4 linked regions of the Homo sapiens genome follow. The protein of the gene in region 3 interacts with the protein of the main gene of each other region in a biochemical or structural test. Each region holds a gene or a part of one and is shown on either strand. Other genes may lie near its edges. The genes, in order: NMI, PTPN2, STAT3 and PTPN1.

Region 1 (2,738 bases), on a different chromosome or scaffold from region 3:
CATTCCCCAGCATCGAGCATGATAAGTGATGAGTCACTAACTTTGTATTTACCTCTCTCTCCATGCCAAGGTTTTCAAACTCTTATACCAATTGTTTCCATTGTAAGTGCAAAAGAAAGAAAAAGCTAGTCCTTTACGAGCTCTATTTGGAGAGGGGATGGCTTGGAAGGAATCAAGGGACACTTGGCACTTGGGTGAACAGAAATTCAAGAAAAAGATCACACTCAGCTCTGAGAACCTTTAGAGTTGTGGAGTGAAATGCTATGCACAGTGGTAAATGGTTGCTCTTGAAGTCCTTCGAATCTTCAGTTGAGTTTACAGGAATCACCAACTGCTGAATGTAACTGCCTTTGTTTTGGAAAATGTTAAGAGTCAAGTCTGCATATTGGTGGGCATGGGGCCACAACTGAATTGGCCCACAAGACCATAACAGGATGAGCCAGCACTGGCAGGGGACATCTGAATCACTTAAGGTTGATTTCAGCAGACATGGCACCAATACACATAATCTATAAACAAAACTTTTTATTACAGTGCACTTATTGTAGTTGAAAACATGCAGCACCATTTGAAACAAAGAAGATTCAGAAACATGGAAATAAGTTTTGTATCTAAACATAAATGGATGGTAAAAATTAAAGTTTTCATTTTTTAAGGAAAAGCATATTCATTTTTGTCAAACATTTACAGTAATCCGGGTTAAAAAGCTATAGTTTTCATGATTCTGTTAAGTCTATTCTTCAAAGTATGCTATGTGAGGTTGACCTAGAGAACACTTGACCACATCTACTTCTCCACCTCCATTCTTTGCCCGTTGAAAGTGAATGTTAATTAAATCCTCCACAATTTCTTCATCCATTTGAATGCCTTCCATTCCTGTCAGAAGCACTGTCCTCTTAGATGTTCCTGAAAATATCTAAGAAGGAAAAAATGATAAATAGAAAGATTTCTAAGAGCTTTGAATTACAAAACTTTACATTCATAATCTCTGCTTAATATTTTTTATTTTATCTTAGAAGAGACAAGAAATCTTAGGAAGATTTTCCAAGCAAGAGAATATCCAAGTCAGATCTGAGTTTTAGAAAGAGAACTCTGGTGGCATTATGGAACACAGAGGAAAGGAGGGATGCTCTGGGAACAGAAAGACCAGGTAAAGAGGTAGTCAGAAGTGGAGCTGGCAAGATTTAGTGACCAAATGAATGTTGGAGGTGAAGCAAACTGAAGAGTTAAGTATGAGTTCTAGCTTTTAAGTTGGTGGAGTAGGTAGATGGTGGTACCATTGGATACCTGAGAAGGAAGAGGAAAAGGGAGCAGGTCTGGGGTAAAGATAATGAGTTCAGAGAAAGTAGGCAGGAATTCTTTCTCATGCTCACTGACAGTAGACATATGAGAGAAATGCAACTATGTCTCCATGTACAAAAATAAAAATTGTGCCATTATCTGAGTAATTTCAGTTTTAAAAATTGTATAATAAAGTACAGTTTTGCATTAAAATGCTCCTTCAAAAGACAAACTCATTTTGCACCAAGCAAAAATGAAGTAAAGAAACCATTTTGCTATCCCTCATTGATAAGATGCATAAGTAACAGACTCACAACAACTTTATTTTTTGTGGGGTGGGTTTGGGCAGTGAGTTCTGAAAATGAGAGAACAGAGATGACTTTACCTGATACTTTTTCAAGTGTATTTCTGTGTATGGAGAAACAGTAACTCTATGGCAGGTTTGATTTATATAAAGAGGGTATTCTTTCTTTTTCAAAATCTTGTCAGCCACTAAAAGCAAAACAAAAACAATACTTGTCTTTTTTATATCATAAGCATTTTTAACCAAAGTTAAAACTTCCTTCAAAGAGAACACTATTACAGTAAATATTGAGTTAAAAGATTAATTTTTAAGAAATTCTAAAGCCCACTTTGAAGACTTCACAGTACATAATTTTGAAAACTACAAGACCAAACAATAATGAGGTTTAAAGCCTTCATTCCATCTTGAATTATTCACTGCAGTCAATCAATGCACAAAGGGTTGCAATGTCCTCAGACAGATCTACTTTGAGCTATAAAAAATACCATAGTCTTTTGCAGAAAGTAACCCACTCATCTAACAAGACTGGACTGTTTCCCAGTTTCTCAAAAGCTGTAAGTGAAAACTATGATTAGAATACTATATACATTTTTTTCAATATATTCAATAAACTGAAGTAATGATGTTAACCAAAGCAGGGAGGGGATTGAATGTCATCTAGAAAAACTGAAAGGAAATAAAAATTCATCAGTTTTCTACAACACAAAGAATAGTCTATTTTTTAGCAGTATTTTTTTCTCCTAGAGTGGTGAAAGGATGTGTGTCAAGACTGTAACATTTAACAAAAACAGTTCTTGGGAATATACAACCATGTTTTTTATGACTCTTCTCACTCATCTACCTTGGATCAGCAATATGGTACAATGATTAAGAGTGTAGGCCCTCATTGGCGAGAATATGGAGAAATTGAAACCCTGAGGCAATGCTGATAGAAATGTAAAATGGTACAGCCACTGTAGAAAACAGTATGACAGTTCCCCAAAATATTAAAATAGAACATGATATGATCCAGCAATTCAACTTCTGGGTATATACCCGAAACAACTGAAAGCAGGGACTCGGACAGATACTTGCTCGTTAATGCTCAGAGCAGTATTTTTCACAATAGGCAAAAGGTGGAAGCAACCCAAGCATCCACCAACAGATGAACAGA
Region 2 (7,039 bases), on a different chromosome or scaffold from region 3:
GCCGCCCCGTCCGGGAGGGAGGTGGGGGGTTCAGCCCCCCGCCCGGCCAGCCGCCCCGTCCGGGAGGGAGGTGGGGGGGTCAGCCCCCCGCTTGGCCAGCCGCCCCGTCTGGGAGGTGAGGGGCGCCTCTGCCCGGCCGCCCCTACTGGGAAGTGAGGAGCCCCTTCCGGGAGGGAGGTGGGGGGATCAGCCCCCGCCCGGCCTGCCGCCTCGTCCGGGAGGTGAGGGGCGCCTCTGCCCGGCCGCCCCTACTGGGAAGTGAGGAGCCCCTCTGCCCGGCCAGCCGCCCCGTCCGGGAGGAAGGTGGGGGGGGGTCAGCTCCCCGCCCGGCCAGCCGCCCCGTCCGGGAGGGAGGTGGGGGGTTCAGCCCCCCGCCCGGCCAGCCGCCCCGTCCGGGAGGGAGGTGGGGGGGTCAGCCCCCCGCCCGGCCAGCCGCCCCGTCCGGGAGGGAGGTGGGGGGGTCAACCCCTCGCCCGGCCAGCCGCCCCACCCGGGAGGTGAGGGGCGCCTCTGCCCGGCCGCCCCTACTGGGAAGTGAGGAGCCCCTCTGCCCGGCCACCACCCTGTCTGGGAGGTGTGCCCAACAGCTCATTGAGAACAGGCCATGATGACAATGGTGGTTTTGTGGAATAGAAAGCAGGGAAAGGTGGGGAAAAGATTGAGAAATCGGATGGTTGCCGTGTCTGTGTGGAAAGAAGTAGACATGGGAGACTTTTCATTTTGTTCTGTACTAAGAAAAATTCTTCTGCCTTGGGATCCTGTTGATCTGTGACCTTACCCCCCAACCCTGTGCTCTCTGAAACATGTGCTGTGTCCACTCAGGGTTAAATGGATTAAGGGCAGTGCAAGATGTGCTTTGTTAAACAGATGCTTGAAGGCAGCATGCTCGTTAACAGTCATCACCACTCCCTAATCTCAAGTACCCAGGGACACAAACACTGCGGAAGGCCTCAGGGTCCTCTGCCTAGGAAAACCAGAGACCTTTGTTCACTTGTTTATCTGCTGACCTTCCCTTCACTATTGTCCTATGACCCTGCCAAATCCCTCTCTGTGAGAAACACCCAAGAATGATCAATAAAAATAAAAATTAAAAAAAAAAAAAGCATAGAACAGAAAAGTTTAGTTTTCTTCTACTCAGGAAAGTGAGAGCTTATATTCTTTAAAGTTAGCCTGTGGAAATGTATCTCTTCCTCAGTTATCAGCTGCTATGTCTTAAATTTTACATGCTAAACTGATTGAGGATTTAGTATATGGCTAATCACTCTTATCCAAAGTAAGGGTGGTATTATTAAAAGTTCAGTTTATTAGTTGGTTTAAATATCCTCTGACTCTCAACAGCTTTCCATTAAGAAAAAACTACCTTAATGGGGCATTAAGTTAAGGAATAGAGAGTAGAGAATCTAGATGAGGATTTCCAAGGGAAACAAATCATACGTAACGTTTATTCAAGAAAGTGAAGAGCACACTATGTTAATTTTAATTTCGCGTACCCAGACCTTATCTGTCCATCTCTCTGGTTTATCTGGACTATTTGGAGACCAAAGGGAAGAAGGGGAGTAGAGAGTGGACAGGTAAGAGGACAAAGACAAGGTAGCTAAAAGAACAGCAGGGGACTGAGAGAGCTGTAACAGTTCTCCAACTGGGAATCAGAAATTCTCTGCAGAGTAACTATCTGGAAAAAGTAAAAAGGGCTTTTAAGATTCTGGTTGGCCAAGCACTGTGGCTCCCCAGCATTATGGAAGGGTGAAGCCGGAAGATCGCTTTAGCCCGGGAGTTCGAGACCAGTCTGGACAACATGGTGAGAACCTGTCTCTACAAAACATAAAAAATTAGCCAAGCATGGTGGCGTGCATCTGTGCAGTGAGCCGTGATCTCATCACTGCACTCCAGTCTGGGTGACAGAGTGAGACCCTGTCTCAAAAAACAAAACAAAACAAAATTCTGGTTAAGGGCTGGGCATGGTGGCTCATGCCTGTAATCTCGCCACTTCGGGAAGCCAAGGTGAGCAGACCACTTGAGGCCGGGAGTTCAAGACCAGACCAGCCTGGCCAACAAGAACAACAACAAAAAGAAGAAGAAGAAGAAGAAATTTGTCAGGCGTGGTGGTGTGTGCCTGTAGTCCCAGCTTCTCGGGAGGCTGAGGCAAAGGACCACTTGAGCCAGGAGTTTTGAGTCTGCAGTGACCTACGATCGTGCCACTGCACTCCAGCCTGGGTGACGGAATGAGACCCCTTCTCAAGAAAAAAAGAAGATTCTGGTTAAAATCAAGAAATCAAAAAAGAGGCAACTAGAAAAGCTAGGAGACAAACGCAACTATCTGGATTTCCGTAATTATAGATATCAGTAATCTATAAACACATGTCAAAGGCAAAACAATATGATTTCTAGGTATACATTCCCCATTGGGGCACCCATCCCAAGGCTGCTTTCCCTTCAAGCAGTGGTCTTTACCTTTTGAGGGATCACAGACAAATCCACTAAGAAACTGACAAAAGCTACAGAATCACCTAGAAACGAAATACCTGGGAACACACGTACATAAAATTTAGCAGTTTCAGGAGATTTGCAAATACCTTTCAAGTCTGATCCCTGGATCCCAGACACTGTTTTAAAGGCCTCAAGTCCCAAAATGACCCTACCTATTATAACACATCCACTCCCTCCTAGCCATCAAAATTAAGACGATTCCCTCTGTGCCACTGATCTCAAATAGATCATAAGAAGAAAGCACTACAGGTAGTCACATGGGTAAATTAGGGCAGTGCTGAAACGAGAATCAGAAGGACTGGATTTGAGTCCCAGTTATGACACTAGCAGATATTGTAACATCAGATAAGTCACAACACTGTATTGGCCCAGTGTTTCCTCAGCCATAAATGAGGGGTTTGGAATAAACTAAGGTGCTGACATTTTAAAAGGGAACAGTTTTCCTGTGTTTACTGAATATTTACTGAGCATCTAACATGTTTCAGGTCCCGTAGGTAGGTGGTGGGAAAACAAAGAAAAAAAAAGACCACCCTCAAGGAGCTACACAGAACAGACAAGTAGACAGTTACAAAACAATGTGGTTCATATTCTAATAAAAGAATATAGAGAACTAAGAAATGAGAGAAGGGGGAGCATTTAACTTTGCCCAAGGAGACTACGGTCTAGTCTTGAAGATGTTTCCCAAATAGATATGGTAGGCATGGAGTATATCCAACACATGAAGACTCCAAGGTGTGAGAGAGTAGCCAATCTTCAAGGGAATTCAGAGTTTGTGCAACCATGTAAAAGCACTGAGATTAGACAGCAGGCAGGAGAATGTGTAACTAGTAGGCAAGGGAAGTGTTTTAGAATAAGACAGCTTTGATTCACCTGCCTAACTGGCTGCCCCGCTGTAAGTATGAGAAGAACAGTGTGCACTTGATATCTGACTTCTAAAAATTAGCTGACTCACAAATGGTAAAAATTGTTCTCTAGCAATATTTGAACTACAAATTTCTAATAAAGAAAAATGGCGGCCAGGCGCAGTGGCTCATGCCTATAATCCCAGCACTTTGGGAGGCCGAGGCAGGTGGATCACAAAGTCAGGAGATCAAGACCATCCTGGCTAACACGGTCAAACCCCGTCTCTACTAAAAATACAAAAAATTAGCCTGGCGTGGTGGCGGGCGCCTGTAGTGTTGGCGGGCGCCTGTAGTCCCAGCTACTCAGAAGGCTGAGGCAGGAGAATGGCGTGAACCTGGGAGGCAGAGCTTGCAGCGAGCCGAGATGACGCCACTGCACTCCAGCCTGGGCAACAGAGCAAGACTGTCTCAAAAAAAGAAAAAGAAAAAAGAAAAATGGCCAGGCACAGTGGCTCATGCTTGTAATCCTAAGCCTTTGGAAGGCTGAGGTGGACAGATTGCTTGAACTCAGGAGTTGAAGACCAGCCTGGGCAAAATAGTTAAACCCTGTCTCTACAAAAAATACAAAAAAATTAGCCAGGCCCAGCTACGTGGGGGACTGAGGCAGGAGGATGTCTAAAGCCCAAGAGGTCGAGACTGCAGTGAGCTGAGATCACGCCACTGCACTCCAGACTGGGTGACAAAGTGAGACCCAGTCTCAAAAAGAAAAGAAAGAAAAAGAAAAAAAAAGAAAGAAAAAGGAAAAAAAGAAAGAAAAAGAAAAATGTGGCTGGGCGTGGTGGCTCACACCTGTAATCCCAGCAGCACTTTGGGAGGCCGAGGCAGGTGGATCACCTGAGGTCAGGAGTTCAAGACCAGCCTGACAAACATGGTGAAACCCCGTTTCTACTAAAAATACAAAAATTAGCTGGGCGTGCTGGTGGGCACCTGTAATCCCAGCTACTCGGGAGGCTGAGGCAGTAGAACTGCTTGAACCTGGGGGGAGCAGAGGTTGCAGTGAGCTGAGATCACACTACTGCACTCCAGCCTGGGGGACAGAGCAAGACTTGGTTTCAAAAAAAGAAAAATGAAGTCAGTCAGGAGTTCCATTGTTTATAAACCCTAATTAATCAACCAATTTCCAAGAGGCTGAGGTGAGAGGCTCACCTGAGCCCAGGAGTTTAAGGTTGCAGTGAGCTATGATTGCACCACTGCACTTGTACTCCAGACTGGGCAACAGAGTGAGAACTCTTTAAAAAAGAAAGGAATTTAAAAATAAATAAGCCAAATTCCTTCTGAGCCATCACTTCTTAGAAACAACCCATAACATAGCTTTTGCGATTCCCCAGTTTTAGTCTTTTCCTCAGTAGGCACACAGACTCCATTCCTTCTCTCTGCCTTTCTCAAAGCTCAGCCTGATGAAGACAGCAATCAGCAGTGACAAAAGGAAAAGCCAAAAAGGGATCATGAACATTACTCAAAAAGTCAGAATTAACCTCACACAATCAGACCAAATTAAACTTTTCCAACTGCACCCTTTGTTTTGCTGTTCTTGTTTTAGAGACAGGATCTCACTCTGTCACCTAGTCTGTAGTGCAGTGGCACAATTATGGCTCACTGCAGCCCTAACCTCCTGACCTCAAGTGATCCTCCCACCTCAGCCTCCCAAAGCGCTGGGATTACAGGGATGAGCCACCGCCTGGCCAGCACTCTTTCACGATCAATTCTTCCACCTGTGTGCTCTTGGTCCCATTGACTCTTGCTTTCTAAGATTTCTGGCTCCAACAATCATCCCTTCTATTTCAACCTCCACCTCTCTCTTTAGGTTCATCCCTGCAATCACATAAATATATCAAGTTGCCCTTTCCTCGTAAAAAGTCATTCATTCAGCACATATTTTCAAGTGCTTACTAAGCACCTGATACTGTGCAAAGCACTGGCAGTGCCTTCATGAAACTCTGAAGAAGTAATAAAAAATATAAACTCAGATTAACAGAGTCTGTTCTGCTCCAACCCAATAATTCATTTCTAAGAAACCTCCTATTATCAAACTCATGAAATAAAAGACACTTTTCAAAAGGAGCAAAAAGGAATAAGGGACCAGAGTTCCAGACTCAAAATACTAAATTCATTTTTCCCGCTAGAATTTCAACAAGGTATCAAGTTCTCCTACCACTAAGCAAGTCCAGCTTTTAGTTGTACTCAGTTTTTGCTCAAGAGCAAAGCCTTTCTTTTCCCAGCTCCATGAGCATTACCAAAAAAAGCACAACTCTTCAAAAACATTATCAGAAACATCACCCACTGCTGTGCTAAACAAAGCAGAAAGCCACCTTAAACACTTTTTTCCTACTCAAGCTGTGTTACTTTCAAGATAGTGGTTTGCTTAATGCAAATTGTGTTCCCGAAATCATTTGCTGCTGTATGACATCCAATTCCCGCTATGAAAGGGGAAGTCTTGGGATGCTAAAGAAGTACGCAACAGGGGCTCATACCCAGCATGGGCAGGTCAAGAAGGCCTGCCAAGGAAGTGAGACTTCAGGGATGAGTAGGAGGCAGTTTAAGCAAGAAAGGAAAGAGAAGGGGGGAAAGTTGTGCCAAGGCAAAGAGAACAACATTTACAAACGCCCTAAGGGGAGAATGGACACACACACTTCCAAGAATACAACACAGTGGAAAAGAGGGAGGAAAGTGATAGGGGAAATCAAGCAAGAGACACAGGCCATGAGGTCTTGTGAGCCGGAGGAGGGGCTGAATTTACACTGTGAGCAACGGAAAGCCGTTCAAGGGTTTAAGTGAGAAGTCACACAATCTTGCTTCATTTTAGCTACCTCTCCCCACTTCTTCAAGTTGGGCTTCTAAAAAGAGCAGTGTACACTTGGTAGTTTGCATTTCCTCCTACCTTCTCTCCTGAACTCCAGGTATCTGTCTTGTGTAGTCCGCTGACACAACTCCCTTTAAGGTATCTGTTAATCTAGCTGCTCAATGTCATGGCCCTCTCAGGCTGGCCCTTACCTGTCAGGTGGCCCTGCTCACCCTCAACTCCCTCCACTGCTTTCCTCCCCACTTCTGTGGTTGTTCCTCACCAGTCTTTTTTGCAAGTTCCTCTTTCTCCACCCATCCTTTTAAATGTTGTCTGTCAAGATTCTGTCCTTGGCCTTTGATATTTCCAAACGCTCTGTATCTTCCCTAGATGATCTCATCAATGTCTAAGACCTCAAATATCACCCATGTGTTCATGATTTCCAAAATCACATTTACTCAGACCCTCTCTCCCGAACTCCAAATTTATACATTCAACTAGCTTCATTTCAGTGTCTCGCAGGTACCTCAAACAGAATTAAAGTTTCAAAACCAAACTTGTACATAACGTATACCCCTTTACCATTTCATTTCAAATCTGTATCTCCCCTCCATCCCTCCTGCCACTGCCTAACAGAAGCTCATCATGTCTCTTCAGGTTTACTCCAACCGACTACTGCCCTGTGCTGCGTGCCTACACTTTCCTCATCCAGTCTGCTAGCAGTCAGAACGATCTTGCTAACAAGTAAATATGATCAGCCCAGAGCAGTGGCTCATGCCTGTAATCCCAGCACTTTGAGAGGCCGAGGCAGGCGGATCACCTGAGGTCAGGAGTTCGAGACCAGCCTGGCCAACATGTCGAAACCCTGTCT
Region 3 (7,039 bases):
CCAGCTAGTTTTTTGTATTTTCAGTAGAAACAGGATTTCACCAAGTCGGCAAGGATGGTCTTGAACTCCTGACCTCAAGCAATCCACATGCCTTGGTCTCCCAAAGTGCTGGGATTACAGGCGTGAGCCATCGCTCCCGGCCTCCTAATTATGTTTCATTTTGGTTAATGTTTCAATAAATGTGCTTTCCCTAAACATACTGATGAAAAGAGGCCCAAATGCAAAACTGATTTGTCGAGAAAGTCAGTCTGAGATGAAATATTTATTATGTCTAAACCACAAGTAGAAAAAAATTCAAAGGCCGACTATTTCAATGCTAACTCAATGCAATATTGCACTTTGTTTGGTTTACGGGAGAGGTAATTTACACAGCTAACATTTGGGTTTTCAAGATTACATTGTGGGGAGAGAAGGGGAAAACAAGAAAAGTCTAATGCTTTTAGATTCTGTCAGAAAAAGTGTTTGCTAAAAAGCAAAACAAAATGAACATGAGAAAAAATGTGAAAAAACATGCATTTTAGGAAGCTTTCACCGAAGCAGGTGCTCAAGTTCAGACTCAAATCTTCCAACTCTTGTAATAAAAATGAGAGGTCAGAATACCACAAACTAATCAAATCAATCAAACAAAGCGGGAAACAGGTGGCTGACACCAGACTGGGCAGGGTTTTCCTAAATTGGGCTTACCTTCACTAATCCAAATCAGTTTTCAGAAATGGCTTCTACAAAAACTACCCAAACATCCCCCTAATAATTTGCACTCCTCCTCCACAATAGGGAAGCCAAGCCGTTTATTTCCCAGAAGGTTTACTTTCTCTTTCAAGCTCTGCTGGCTTCTTCCTGCCCCGCATACGGCCAGGAAAAAAGAAAAGCACTGCCTTTTCTTTCCTGCCTTCTCTAAAACTGGGGAGATGGGGTGAGAGAACCTGTTTCATGGACAAGCTGGGTGGTTCTTAACTGCAACACTGTTCTGAATACAGATTAGTTTGCAAAGGAAAGTTACAGGACAGGAAAATAAAGGTCTACCCCTCCAACTAACTCATACACATGTACATTTGCATGTACGCACACACACAGATGTGAGGGCACATTTAATTCAGCTGAGTAATGTGCAGCAATCAGCTCCCAGCTTCATACCTGGCCACCGGGATGCCTCCTCACTCCCACCTTCTTTACCTGACTCAAAATAAGGTTCCTCCTGTTGGCTTCTTCCTGAGACACAACCAACTCTAATCATTCCTCTTCCCCTCAAACCTTCAACACTACCTGCACTTTCTGGGTCGGGAGCAATTCCTTGGGTGGTAATCCATTTTTAATGTGTTAAATATTACTTAAAATAAGGGAGAGGTAATCATGGACTGTGGGCAATGCAGAGATTTATCAGAAGGGCATTTGTGTAAACAGGAATTTACAGTTTGCCTTACCTATTCCTTTTATATGACAGCCTCAATTTCCTCTAACAGAATGTAAGTCCCCCATCCCTATTCATTTAGTTTTTTTCCCATTAGGTTAGAATCTGCTAATTATTCTTTCTCTCCTTTGGGTCATTAGTGGCTGCCATGAATCATAATTTGCCTGACTTTGTAATATCTAACAGATATTACCATTTTAGTTTAGTTTTTGATATGACAGTTTTTTGTTTTTTGTTTTTGTGACGGAGTCTTGCTCTGTCTCCCAGGCTGGAGTGCAGCGGCGCGATCTCAGCTCACTGCAACCCCCACCTCCTGGGTTCAAAAGCAATTCTCCTGCCTCAGCCTCCCGGGTAGCTGGGACTACAGGCACCCGCCACCACAACAGGCTAAATTTTATATTTTTAGTAGAGACGGGGTCTCACTATGTTGGGCAGGCTGGTCTTGAACTCCTGACCCGCCTCGGCCTCCCAAAGTGCTGGAATTACAGGCGTGAGCCACCATGCCCGACCTCCTAATTATGTTTTATTCCACCTGCCCCTATGTATAAGCGTTACCACCCTAATTATGCTTTTTGTTTTTCGGTTTTTTTGAGACAGAGTCTCACTCTGTCACCCAGGCTGTAGTGCAGTGGCACGATCTCGGTTCACCGCAACCTCCGCCTCCCGGGTTCAAGCGATTATCCTGCCTCAGCCTCCCGAGTAGCTGGGATTACAGGTGCCCACCACCACAACTGGCTAATTTTTATATTTTTAGTAGAGACGGGGGGGGTCTCACTCTGTTGGGCAGGCTGGTCTTGAACTCCTGACCTCAGGTGATCCACCCGCCTTGGCCTCCCAAAGTGCTGGGATTACAGGCGTGAGCCACCGCACTCGGCCTGATATTATAGTTTTTAATAAGAGTAATTCAGCCTAGGCAACGTGACGAGATCCTGACTCAAAAAAATTAGAAAATTAGCTGAGGGTGGTAGCACACACCTGTAGCCCCAGCTACCCCGAAGGCTGAGGCAGGAGGATCACTTGAGCCTAGGAGGTCAAGGCTGTCATGAGCTGTGATCTCACCGCTGCACTCCAGCCTAGGTGACAGAGTGAGAACCTGTCTCAAAAAATAAATAGTAATAATAGTAATTATTAGCACTTGAATGTTACCTGTCTGCCCGGCACTATGCAAAGTACTTGATATGCATCATCTTGCTTCATCCTCTCAATTACTCTACAAGTGGACCTCGTTTCCACAATTGTGGACAGAGAAACTGAAAACCAGAGAAGTGAAAACAACAGGCCCAAGGTCTAAGAGAAGGCAGAACTGGGATTAAAGCCCAATAGGTCTGACCTGATAGTCCACTCTTTTAACTGCTATAGTAACTTTGGACCATGAAACCCTCAAACATACCAACCAAGTGTTTCAAAACTACAATAGCAATCACCTTAGGAATACTCAAAATATAAGTTCTTTGGCTGACGCAGTTAAAAATTCAAAGGTCAGGTAAAATTTCAGTGATGAGCAAGGTCATTTATTCTTATGGCTGGGGGTAGCAGGAAGGAAAGCCGGATCGTCGAAGCATTATTTTCTTGTAGGGGCAGATTTACCTTCCTTATTATTCTTTTGCTAGGCTGTTAAAAGGAATTTGGAAGGCCAGGCGTGCTGGCTCACGCCTGTAATCCCAGCACTTTGGGAGGCCGAGGCAGGCGGATCACAATGTGAGGAGATTGAGACCATCCTGGCTAACACGGTGAAACCCTGTCGCTACTAAAAATATAAAAAAAAAAACATTAGCTGGGCGTGGTGGCGGGCGCCTGTAGTCCCAGCTACTCGGGAGGCTGAGGCAGGAGAGTGGCGTGAACCCGGGAGGCGGAGCTTGCAATGAGCCAAGATAGCGCCACTGCACTCCAGCCTGGGCGACAGAGCGAGACTCCATCTCAAAAAAAAAAAAAAAAAGGAATTTGGAATAAATATGTCTCCAAGATAACCTGGTAAACAGAAAGGGCTGCAAAAAATCTGAATAAAAGCAAGTCAATTAACAGGATACATGTAAAACACACATTTTATATTCCTACAAGTCTTTTTTTTTATAATAGCATGTTATTACTTTTCTAAAAAGGACAAAATAACTTATTTTAATGACATTTAAACCCAATTATTAACAGAAAAGGGATAAGAACTGTGGTTCCTTGGCCTCCTTTCCCCTTGGTTTAGTTCTCCTAAATTAAGAACTTCTACTTATAGCTCCCTGAACACACAAGGCTGTTTTAAGCCTCTGCACCCTCATGTTCCTTCAGCCTTGAATGCAACTTTTTGTAACGCAACTTCGTGGAAAGAATTCCTATTCATCCTATAAAACCCTATTCAGGTGTTCCCATCTGATAAAGCCCCTCAATAATGATGACTTTCTCTCACTCCTGAAAAGAATTAATCTCTTTTCTTGGATATTTAGTAAGAACTTAGATTTACCGAGCTCTTACTATGTGCCAGGCACTATGCTAAGCATTTTATCCACATTATCTTATTGAATCGTCAACAGTACCTACAAGATAAGCACTGTTATAATCTTCTTTTACAGATAAGAAAATAGAGGCTCAGATTCTGACTAGGAAGTGGCAGATCCAGGATTCAGTCCCAGATCTGTTTGACTTCAGAGCCAGAGTCTTGAACCACTCACTGCCCTGTCGTCTCCCCTGTCCTACTTCCATACTGGCATAGCACACACCTCGGTCCCTGCAACATCTCCAGTTTCATGAAAACGGACAATATTTCATTATCCTTGGATCCTGCCTGACGCAATACCTGGCTCTCAACATGTTTGCTGATCTGAATTAAAGAGTTGCGGTAATCCTTTTTTTTTTCTTTTTTTTTTGAGATGGAGTCCCACTCTGTTGCCCAGGCTGGAGTGCAGTGGCACGATCTCAGCTCACTGCAAGCTCCGCCTCCAGGACTCATGCCATTCTCCTGCCTCAGCCTCCTGAGTAGCTGGGACTACAGGCGTCTGCCACCACGCTGGGCTAATTTTTTGTATTTTTAGTAGAGGCGGAGTTTCACCGTGTTAGCCAGGATGGTCTCGATCTCCTGACCTCGTGATCCGCCCACAGCCTCCCAAAGTGCTGGAATTACAGGCATGAGCCACCACACCCGGCTGGGTAAGAGTTGCAGTAATCCTAACATGACAAATGAGAACTGACCATAACAGAAATTCATTCTTCCATATGTTATTCCCAGGCCTCATAACCTCTCCTTCCTCTGAAGACATGTAGCATTCAGTGTAGCACTGTCAGAATGTCTCACTCTGTCCCCCAGTCTGGAGTGCAGTGGCAGGATCTTGGCTCACTGCAGCCTCCACCTCCCAGGTTCAAGCAATTCTCCTGGCTCAGCCTCCAGAGTAGCTGGAACTACAGGCGTGTGCCACCACACCTGGCTAATTTTTGTATTTTTAGTAGAGACGGGGTTTTACCATGTTGGCCAGGCTGGTCTCAAACTCCTGACCTCAAGTGATCCGCTCACCTCTGCCTCACAAAGCGCTGGGATTACAGGCATCAGCCACCATGCCCAGCCTGTTTTTGCCTTTTTTTTTTTTTTAAAGAAACAAAGTGGTCTCACTATGTTGCCCAGGCTGGTCTTGAACTCCTGGGCTCAAGCAATCCTCTTGCCTCGGCCTTCCAAAGTGCTGGGATTATAGGCATGAGCCACTGCTCCTGGCCCGATATGCTACTCCTTTTAAAAACTGGAGGCATCTCAAACAATTTACCACCAAAGGACCATGTGGCCATACTGACTAAAGCGCACTACACTTTACGCTTACGTCTTGTAAGCCAAGGTGTCTAACAAAGAGTATATAACCACCATATTAATTCTTTACACCATAATCAATAAGGGCTGGGCCAGCCCAGCAATGCCATCCTCCTGGATCTCACTGAGGCTGCTCCAGAACACCAGAAGTTCTTCAGGATTCGGGGATGTCCCTCAAGTACTCTTTCAGTGGTTTTTATAAATGACTCAAAAGTTATGGTGAAATTTTTAAGTGCCAAAGACATAAAATATGAGTGGTGGTTTGTATCCAATCAAAAATCCTCAAAAAACACTTCTGCACTTAAGCACACTATACTTTTTTCACCCAAAGTACCAAATCAAACTAGTCAGGATACCTACCTTTGTACAATGTCAGACTCCAGTTAATAACTCCCCTAGGGCAGAGGGCATATGCACTGATTTACTTTGTACAAATTAACCAGCATCAGGCAATCAGGCCTGTGCCTAACACATAGTAAGCACTCTATGATTAAACATCAGTGCTTCGGCTCCAAAGTTTTATTTATTTATTTATTTATTTATTTTTTTTTTTTTTGAGACGGAGTCTCGCTCTGTCGCCCAGGCTGGAGTGCAGTGGTGCGATATCGGCTCACTGCAAGCTCCGCCTCCCGAGTTCACGCTCTTCTCCTGCCTCAGCCTCCCGAGTAGCTGGGACTACAGACGCCCGCCACAACGCCCGGCTACTTTTTTTTGTATTTTTAGTAGAGATGGGGTTTCACCGTGTTAGCCAGGATGGTCTCGATCTCCTGGCCTCGTGATCCGCGCGTCTGGGCCTCCCAAAGTGCTGGGATTACAGGCGTGAGCCACCGCGCCCGGCGCCCCGAAAGTTTTAAAAGCTTCCCCTACAAAAGAACAGAACTGAAATTCCTTGGTCCTGTATTCAATGTCTTTTGTAAGTAATCACTTCTCCCCTACTTACCCTCCTAGTCTACCGGGCTACCAGGAATTTTTTTTTTTTTTGGAGACAGGGTCTCACTCTGTCACCCAGGCTGGAGTGCGGTGGCGGGATCACGGCTCACTGCAGCCTTAACCCCCGGGGCTTGGGTGATCCTCCCACCTTAGTCTCACCAGTAGCTGGGACTACAGGTCCACGCCACCAGGCCTGGCTAATTTTTTTTATTTTTAGGGGAGAGGGAGTTTTACCACGTTGCCCAAGCTGGTCTCAAACTCCTGGGCTCAAGCAATCCTCCTGCCTCAGCCTCCCAAAGTGCTGGGATTACAGGCATAAACCACCGCAAATTCTTTACACCTATCAAATTCCACCCATTATTTGGGACCCAGTTGAAATCCCTCTTTGGCAAAAAGACTTTCTAGACAACTCCAGGCCTCATAACCTCTCCTTTCTCTGAAGATCTGTAGCATTCAGCCTAGCACTGTCCAATAGAACGTTCTATGATAACAGAAAAGTTCTACATCTGTACTGTATGTTCTTTTATGTAGAACAGCTACCTTGTTAGCACAAGTGTAAAGTCTCACCATCTCTTTGATGACAACATGTTACATTGGATGGTTAAAACATTTATCAGCTCCCCCAGTAGACTGCAATTTCTGTGAACAAGATACAACTTATTCTTCATAGCAACTCTGACAAAGTTGCAAAAGGTATATATATGTTGGCCAGGCAAGGTGGTTCACGCCTGTAATCCCAGCACTTTGGGAGGCTGAGGTGGGCAGATCTCTTGAGGTCAGGAGTTTGAGACCAGCCTGGTCAATATAGTGAAACCTTATCTCTACTAAAAATACAAAAATTAGCCGGGCGTAGTGGCGGGCACCTGTAATCCCAGCTACTCAGGAGGCTGAGGTGCGAGAATCACTTGAACCCGGGAGGAGGA
Region 4 (6,983 bases), on a different chromosome or scaffold from region 3:
CAACCCTCTCTCCTCTCATTCTAGCTCAGTAAAATCAATCTCTTTTCCTCATCTGGGCTCATTCTCTCCTCTTAGACAGCTAGGCCCAATCAAGCAACCGGATGATTTGAAAGTGTTTAAATGCTAGAAAACAATGTTTAAAGCCATCTATATACACTATCAAAGCTGACTTTTTATAGACCTAGATGCTTATTAGCATCTATGCTATTCATTAGCATTAAAGATTAAAAATACGGTTATGCTCACTTTATCAAACTGACCTAGCAAAGAATCTCTGCCTAAAAAGTTTGTTTTCCAAGCTGCCACATTCCTCAGCACTCAAAAGTCCTCTTCACTCTTTGTTCTTTTCCCAATAGTTTTCAAGTTTTTACATCTTTTTGTTCTAATCAGAAAATAAGTTAGAATAACTGACCTGCTTACCAAGTTGTAAGCAAAAATTACATTATTCTCTGATCACAATAGGCTAGGCAAGCTCAAAGTATGACTTTGTATAAGGCTGCCCTCATTTCAACATGCTATAAAGTATTAATTTTTTTAAACTTCCATTTTCTATCAATTGTAAACACATTCTTTGAATCCTTGAAAAATAATGGTTTTGGTAAAGCGATACACACCTTGGAAAGTTAGCCACTTTAGACTCAAGGTCATCTGAACTCTGTTTCAGAAAACGCTACAGTTGTATGACAAAGAGCTACTTTTACACTTAGGAGAAAAGCTTCTGATTTCAAGATCTTAGAAAAGAAAAATATCCATACAGTGGAGGTGAGAAAAGCTGGCCCTGACAATTCTCTAAGACCAAAAGAAACTACCTCAGGGAATGTGGCAATCCATTAAGAAGCAGTGAAAATCTCAACACCTTGACTAACTTGTGGGGTTTAATTGTGGCAGAAAAACTTAAGAACAATGAAGGAAATGAATTGAAGACTGACACACTCCATGCTAGTTGCATGCTGAATACAATTTTAACCATGCTTGGGTGACAGGTCAACCCACTCTGGCTTAAAATTGTAAGAAATAAAATTCAACTAAGAACTAAGTTACAATACGTATTTCTTGTTGTCAACTCAGTCAATTTCAGTGGAAAAGACTTCTCTCCACAATGCTTCCACTGTGATGGGGTGTATCATAATCAACTCCAACACTTCAGACCAACAATTTTCATTTAAAGACATTTTAGACTCTACTGCATTAAACTGATGCAGAAAATTTGTCTACACAGTCTCAAAGTCCCTTATGGAATTCATTCAGCTAATTCAGAGACCAGATATGGCATACAAATTTTATATACTGATCAATCATACTTATTAGTATATAGATTACAGTGGTTAGAAATATTAGTCTAGCAGAAACTAATATACACACTACAGTCCAAATAAAAAGAATCCTGTCAAATAAGCTTGATGTAAATCCACATGAAAATCAAGGCTGCCAAAAAAAAAGGCTTTTGTTAGTCAAGCATACCAAAGAACTGCTTAAACCTTTTTTCCTTTCTAAGCGGAGCTCAAAATAGATTTTAATACTACAGCTGATGGATCTCACAATTTGCCTTTTGAGCCTATAAGCTGAAAACAGAATCATCTGCTGTCTCCCTTTACACAAGTAACAAAATCTCTCTATTCTGTATATCGCTTATTTAAGATACTGTGCAAGTGTGGTTTTAGTTAATCTTAACAACCCCCGCAATGACATTTAATTGGGAGTATGTATCTTATTCAGCTGCTTGTGAAAGGAAGAGCTCTTTGTGTTTTTAACTACTTGTTTTATAGATATATGAGAAACCCTCCTTTCCTAACTTTTTAACACACAAGGAGATGACTCCTAAGACAAGGTCATCTCTGCCACGACCAAAGACTAAGCTGCTCATTGAGGAAAGATGCTATTTTAGAGAGGGTTAAAACGTTAACCTTCCTGAGTCCCTGCCTGAAAGAATAATATCATGGCCCCAATGGAGTGGGTACCGCAGGCCTCCTGGCTAGAAGGTTCTTTAGCCCCATATTCTCACGGCTTTCTGCTCCTCTTGGTTCAGCTCACAAAGCAAATGTCTCCTCCTTTGACAGGCCTTCCCTGATCCCCTTCTCTAAGACAGCCGGCCTTCTATGCAGTCACCCTGTACCCCGTTAGGAAGTCGTTCTCTTCACAGCACCTGTCACTATCTGAAATTATTTGCTTTTGTGTTTGATTGCCCTATTCGACTCTAGGCCCCACTAAGGCTAGGATCTTGCCTGTCCTGATTAGCAAACACCACCTCCAATGCCTAAGCGGTGCCTAGCACAGAATAAGCTTGCCAACTCCTATCCAATAAATGAATGAACAGAAAGGGGAAAGGGGACTGTCATCTCTGGGACTCGACGCACACTGAGACTAGGGGAAAGGAAATGTGAAGGAGGGACGGGGGGAGTAACCTTTTCCCCCAGGGAGACAAAGGAAGAGAGTCTGAGGTGGTCCACTCCAGAAAAGGAAATAGTGGGGGTGCTAAATCACCCCAGGGGACAAAGAGTGGACAGGCAGGGGGCGGGGTCGGGGTGCGAGGGATTCGCGTTGAGAGCACAGACCGGCGGTCCCCCGGCTTGAGAGATCACCCGAGCTGGAGAACAGAAGGGAGGTGGGGGATCGAAGGGGGCTCCGACGCTGCGGCGAGAAACACGCCCGCCCCGGGGACAAAGGGTGGGGGGACGCAGTGCGTCGCTGTCCCATCGAATCCTCAAGCAGTAGGAGCGAGGCAGAGGGCAAGACCCAGAGGGAGTCTGGGGCCTGGAGGTCTGAGGGGATGTTCAAGCGGCCTAAGCGAAGGGCCCGCCACGCTCCGGGGCGCTCCCGCACCTGGTAAATGGCCGCCCAGCTCCCGGACTTGTCGATCTGCTCGAACTCCTTTTCCATCTCCATGACGGGCCAGGGCGGCTGCTGCGCCTCCTTCTCGGCCCACTGCGCCGTCTGCCGCTCTAGGCCGCGTCGCGCTCTTAGCCCCGAGGCCCGCTGCAATCCCCGACCCCTGCAGCTACCGCCGCCCTAGCCGCTGCTGCTTCTTCATGTCAACCGGCAGCCGGAACTACGCATCACGCCTGCCAGGGGCTCCGCCCCTGAAGCAGAAGGACCAATCAGCGATCGAGAATTTCGACAAGCACTTCCGCGGGGAGGAGCCGGGGGCGGTGCTAGGGGAAGTGGCCCCAGCACCGCGAGATATCTAATAGCGCGCGTTCCCTCCTCCGCTTTGGGGCTCTGGGCTCGGGCGCGGCGCGCGCCTGTTGCCTAGGCGACCCCGGGAGCCCCGCCCACGGCGCGTGGGCTCTCCAGGCCCGGGAGGGCATTGAGTTCCAGCCCCGACCCGGCCCGTTGAGTCACAGAGTGAGTGGCCTTAAAGTAGTCATGCACCTCCTTTCCTGCAGGGCCTGGGCCCCAGCCTCAGTAATCCAAGCTGGAGTATGGGAGGAGGGCACCGTGCTCTATTTCCTGCCTCCCAGCTCTGGCCAGATGTCTGCCCTTTTTTCATGAAACTCAGGAGTATCATGTTTCACTACGCTGCTGGGGAAGCCCACTGCTCTCTAAGGGTAGTGTCCCTGTCTGAAACGCAGAATTTCCACTTGGGTGCTGCAGGAATGAATGGATGGGGATGGAATGATTTTCAGTGTTTCCCGAAGTATCAAGGAACTCCTGCTCAGACTGAACTAAGCAGAGCACAAATTCCATGGTGCATTATGTTAAATAAAAATCATAGGAGCCCAGGCGCGGTGGCTTACATCTGTAATCCCAGCACTTTGGGAGGCAGAGGCAGGCGGATGTCTTGAGGCCAGGAGTTCCAGACCAGCCTGGGTAACAGAATCAGACCTCGTCACTACTAAAAGTTAAAAAATTAGCCGGTGTGGTGGGGCCCAGCTGCTGGGGAGGCTGAGGCAGGAAGATCACCTGAGCCCAGGAGGTGGAAGCTGCAGTGAGCTGTTTTGGCGCCACTGCACTCCACCTTGGGTGGCAGAGAGAGACCCTGTCTTGAAAAAAAAGGGCTGGGTGTGGTGGCTCACACCTGTAATCCCAGCACTTTGGGAGACCGACGCAGGTGGATCACCTGAGGTCAAGAGTCCGAGACCAGCCTGACCAACATGGTGAAACTCGGTTTCTGCTAAAAAAAAAAAAAAAAAAAAAAATTAGCCGGGCGTGGTGGCGCATGCCTGTAATCCCAGCTACTTGGGAGGCTGAGGCAGGAGAATCGCTTGAACCCTGGAGGCAGAGGTTGCAGTGAGCCAAGATAGCTCCACTGCACTCCAGCCTGGGCAACAAGAGCGAAACAAACAAACAAAAAAAGTTCTGGCATTAGGGTCTCAACAGACTAGACTAAAAATCAAAATGGAGTCACTCATGCTAAAGTTCTACATCATCAGACTGATAACCTTTCACAAAATCAGAAGAGAGATACACACCCTGATTTCCCAAGCAGACCGTTTTAATCAACATAATGAAGTTCCCTTTGCTTTAATCCTTACAACAAAAAGTAACCTGAAGTAACCCGATGCGACCAATCAGTTATTTCTCTCTTGTTCTGTTTCCCTGTTCCTGCCTTACAAGGAAAGTAACTTTGAAATGACCAATCTGCTTTTTGTTCTTTGTTTCTGCTTTTTTCAGCCCTTTTCTGTCTATAAAACCAACCTCCTCTGCTCAGCTCATTGGGACACTTGTGCTATTTTGAGGAATGAAGTCTTGCCCGATTCTAGAATCATGAATGAAGCCAATTAAGATGTTTAAGTTTGTTGTAATTTTGTCTTTTGACATTTACGGTCACCTGGGAAGTGTGTTGAATAATGCAGGTTCCTGGACCCATCGCCAAATGATTCAGATATCTTTGGTCTAGGGATGAGACCCGGAATCTGCATTTTCACCAACAACTCCAGCTGATTCTCGTACCTATGATCCTTAAAGCACCCATGAGCAGGTTGGTCAGGTTGCCTTCCTGCAGGCTCCAGTTTAAACCATCCCCCTCTGGGCCTGGCATGTCATGTGGACGTTGTGAATTCCAGGAGGTTTGAAAACCTGGAAGAGAGAATTGTCTTCATTCCGTGTTGCCCAGAGACACTGCCTGGTATTATCAGCTGAACTCCAGCTCATTCCTTGAGTGCTTGTGGCAGGCACTATGCCTGGAATTCTAAGTACACATTCCCATTCAATCTCCACAACAACCCTTCAATACAGGTGCTATTATTCCCATTTTATAAACGAGAAAACTGACTGGCTGTGGTGGCTCACGCCTGTAATCCCACCACTTTGGGAGGCCGTGGTGGGTGCATCACTTGAGGTCAGGAATTCGAGACCAGCCTGACAAGCATGGTGAAACCTCAACTCTACTAAAAATACAAAAATTAGCAGGGTGTGGTGGTGCATGCCTGTAATCCCAGCTACTCGGCAGGCTGAGGCACAAGAATCACTTCAACCTGGGAGGCAGAGGCTGCAGTGAGCTGAGATTGCACCACTGCACTCCAGCCTGGGCAACAGAGCAAGATCCTGTCTCAAAAAAAAAAAAAAAAATTAGCCGGCTGTGGTGGCGTGCACCTGTAGTCCCAGGTACTCAGGAGGCTGAGATGGGAGAATCACTTGAGCCTGGGAGATTGAGGCTGCAGTGAGCCATGATCATGTCACTGCACTCCAGCCTGGACGATAGAGTGAGACACTGTCTCAAAAAAAATAAATAAATAAAAATAGGCCAGGCCTGGTGGCTCACACCTGTAATCCTAGCACTTTGGGAGGCTGAGGCAGGTGGATCACCTAAGGTCAGGAGTTCAAGACCAGCCTGGCCAACATGGTGAAAGCCTGTCTCTACTAAAAACACAGAAAATAGATGGGTGTGGTGGTGCACACCTGTAATCCCAGCTAATTGGGAGGCTGAGGAAGGAGAATGGCTTGAACCTGGGAAGTGGAGGTTGCAGTGAGCCGAGATTGAACCACTGCACTCCAGCCTGTGCGACGGGAGAAAGATGCCATCTCAAAAAATAAATAAATAAATACAATAAATTAAATTAAAATAAAAATAAAAAATTAGATGAGGGGGGGACCGGGTGCGGTGACTCATGCCTGTAATCGCAGCACTTTGGGAGGCTAAGGCGGGTGATCGCCTGAGGTCAGGAGTTCGACACCAGCCTGATCAATATGGTGAAACCCCATCTCTACTAAAAATACAAAAAAATTAGCCAGCCATGGTGGCGTGTGATTGTAGACCCAGCTACTCGGGAGGCTGAGACAGGAGAATTGCTTGAACCTGGGAGGCAGAGGTTGCAGTGAGCCAAGATCACACCACTGCACTCGGGCCTGGGTGACAGAGCAAGACTCTGTCTTAAAAAAAAAAAATGGATGAGGAAACTGAAGCACAGAGAGACAAAATTACTTGTCCAGAGTAGCATTGCACATTGGTATGGAAACCTGCATTCTAGCCTGGTTTCCAGAGCCTGCTTTGGAGCCAGGCTTCGTGGGTCCAGGTTCCAGCTGAATAAATACTAGTGGTGCAAACTTGGGCAAATTTTCATTAGTCTCTGCTCTCCTTTGTAAAACAGAGATAATAAAAGTGCCCACCTCATAGGGCTGATGTGAAGGTTGGATGAGTACATATCATGCTCTTAGTATACTGAGTGGCTCAATAAATATTAACTGTCATTACTACATATCTTTAAATAATAGCAAATAAAGGAGATAAATGAAATGTTATTGAATACATGCAATTAGCTTGATCAGCAGTGTCTTTAGAAAGTGAGCATTCCATAGGGGAAAAATTAACAAAAATGCCCATTCCAGTGAAAACTGTGGGAGCTGCCACACTTGGAAGCTACCTAATTGAAGTCTTAGTTCCTTTAAGTGACTGTCCAGACTCCTGTGCTCCTCCCGCCCTTAAACCCTTATACTTTTTGGGTTCTGGTTTGTCTGGAACTCACAATCCTGAGAGCATCCTGGAACAAAAACAGGGCTGGTTCATTCCTGTCCCTGTATGTCAAGCTAAGTAAGTAAATAAATGC

Evidence for each region.
Region 1: the proteins of STAT3 (region 3) and NMI form a complex in vitro, tested with the Homo sapiens proteins (one study listed by BioGRID).
Region 2: the proteins of STAT3 (region 3) and PTPN2 form a complex in vitro, tested with the Homo sapiens proteins (one study listed by BioGRID).
Region 4: of the proteins of STAT3 (region 3) and PTPN1, one has a biochemical effect on the other in vitro, tested with the Homo sapiens proteins (2 studies listed by BioGRID and IntAct).

What each region holds. Positions count from the first base shown.
Region 1 is NC_000002.12:151,269,960-151,272,697, forward strand, and holds the end of NMI (N-myc-interactor), read right to left. Parts: intron 1,774-2,738; coding exon 1,667-1,773; intron 917-1,666; coding exon 734-916; 3' UTR 511-733; downstream 1-510. UniProt on the Homo sapiens protein: Acts as a signaling pathway regulator involved in innate immune system response.
Region 2 is NC_000018.10:12,874,229-12,881,267, forward strand, and holds part of PTPN2 (tyrosine-protein phosphatase non-receptor type 2), read right to left. Parts: intron 1-7,039. UniProt on the Homo sapiens protein: Non-receptor type tyrosine-specific phosphatase that dephosphorylates receptor protein tyrosine kinases including INSR, EGFR, CSF1R, PDGFR.
Region 3 is NC_000017.11:42,378,405-42,385,443, forward strand, and holds part of STAT3 (signal transducer and activator of transcription 3), read right to left. Parts: intron 1-7,039. UniProt on the Homo sapiens protein: Signal transducer and transcription activator that mediates cellular responses to interleukins, KITLG/SCF, LEP and other growth factors. Once activated, recruits coactivators, such as NCOA1 or MED1, to the promoter region of the target gene.
Region 4 is NC_000020.11:50,506,428-50,513,410, reverse strand, and holds the start of PTPN1 (tyrosine-protein phosphatase non-receptor type 1), read right to left. Parts: upstream 3,029-6,983; 5' UTR 2,884-3,028; coding exon 2,821-2,883; intron 1-2,820. UniProt on the Homo sapiens protein: Tyrosine-protein phosphatase which acts as a regulator of endoplasmic reticulum unfolded protein response. Mediates dephosphorylation of EIF2AK3/PERK; inactivating the protein kinase activity of EIF2AK3/PERK.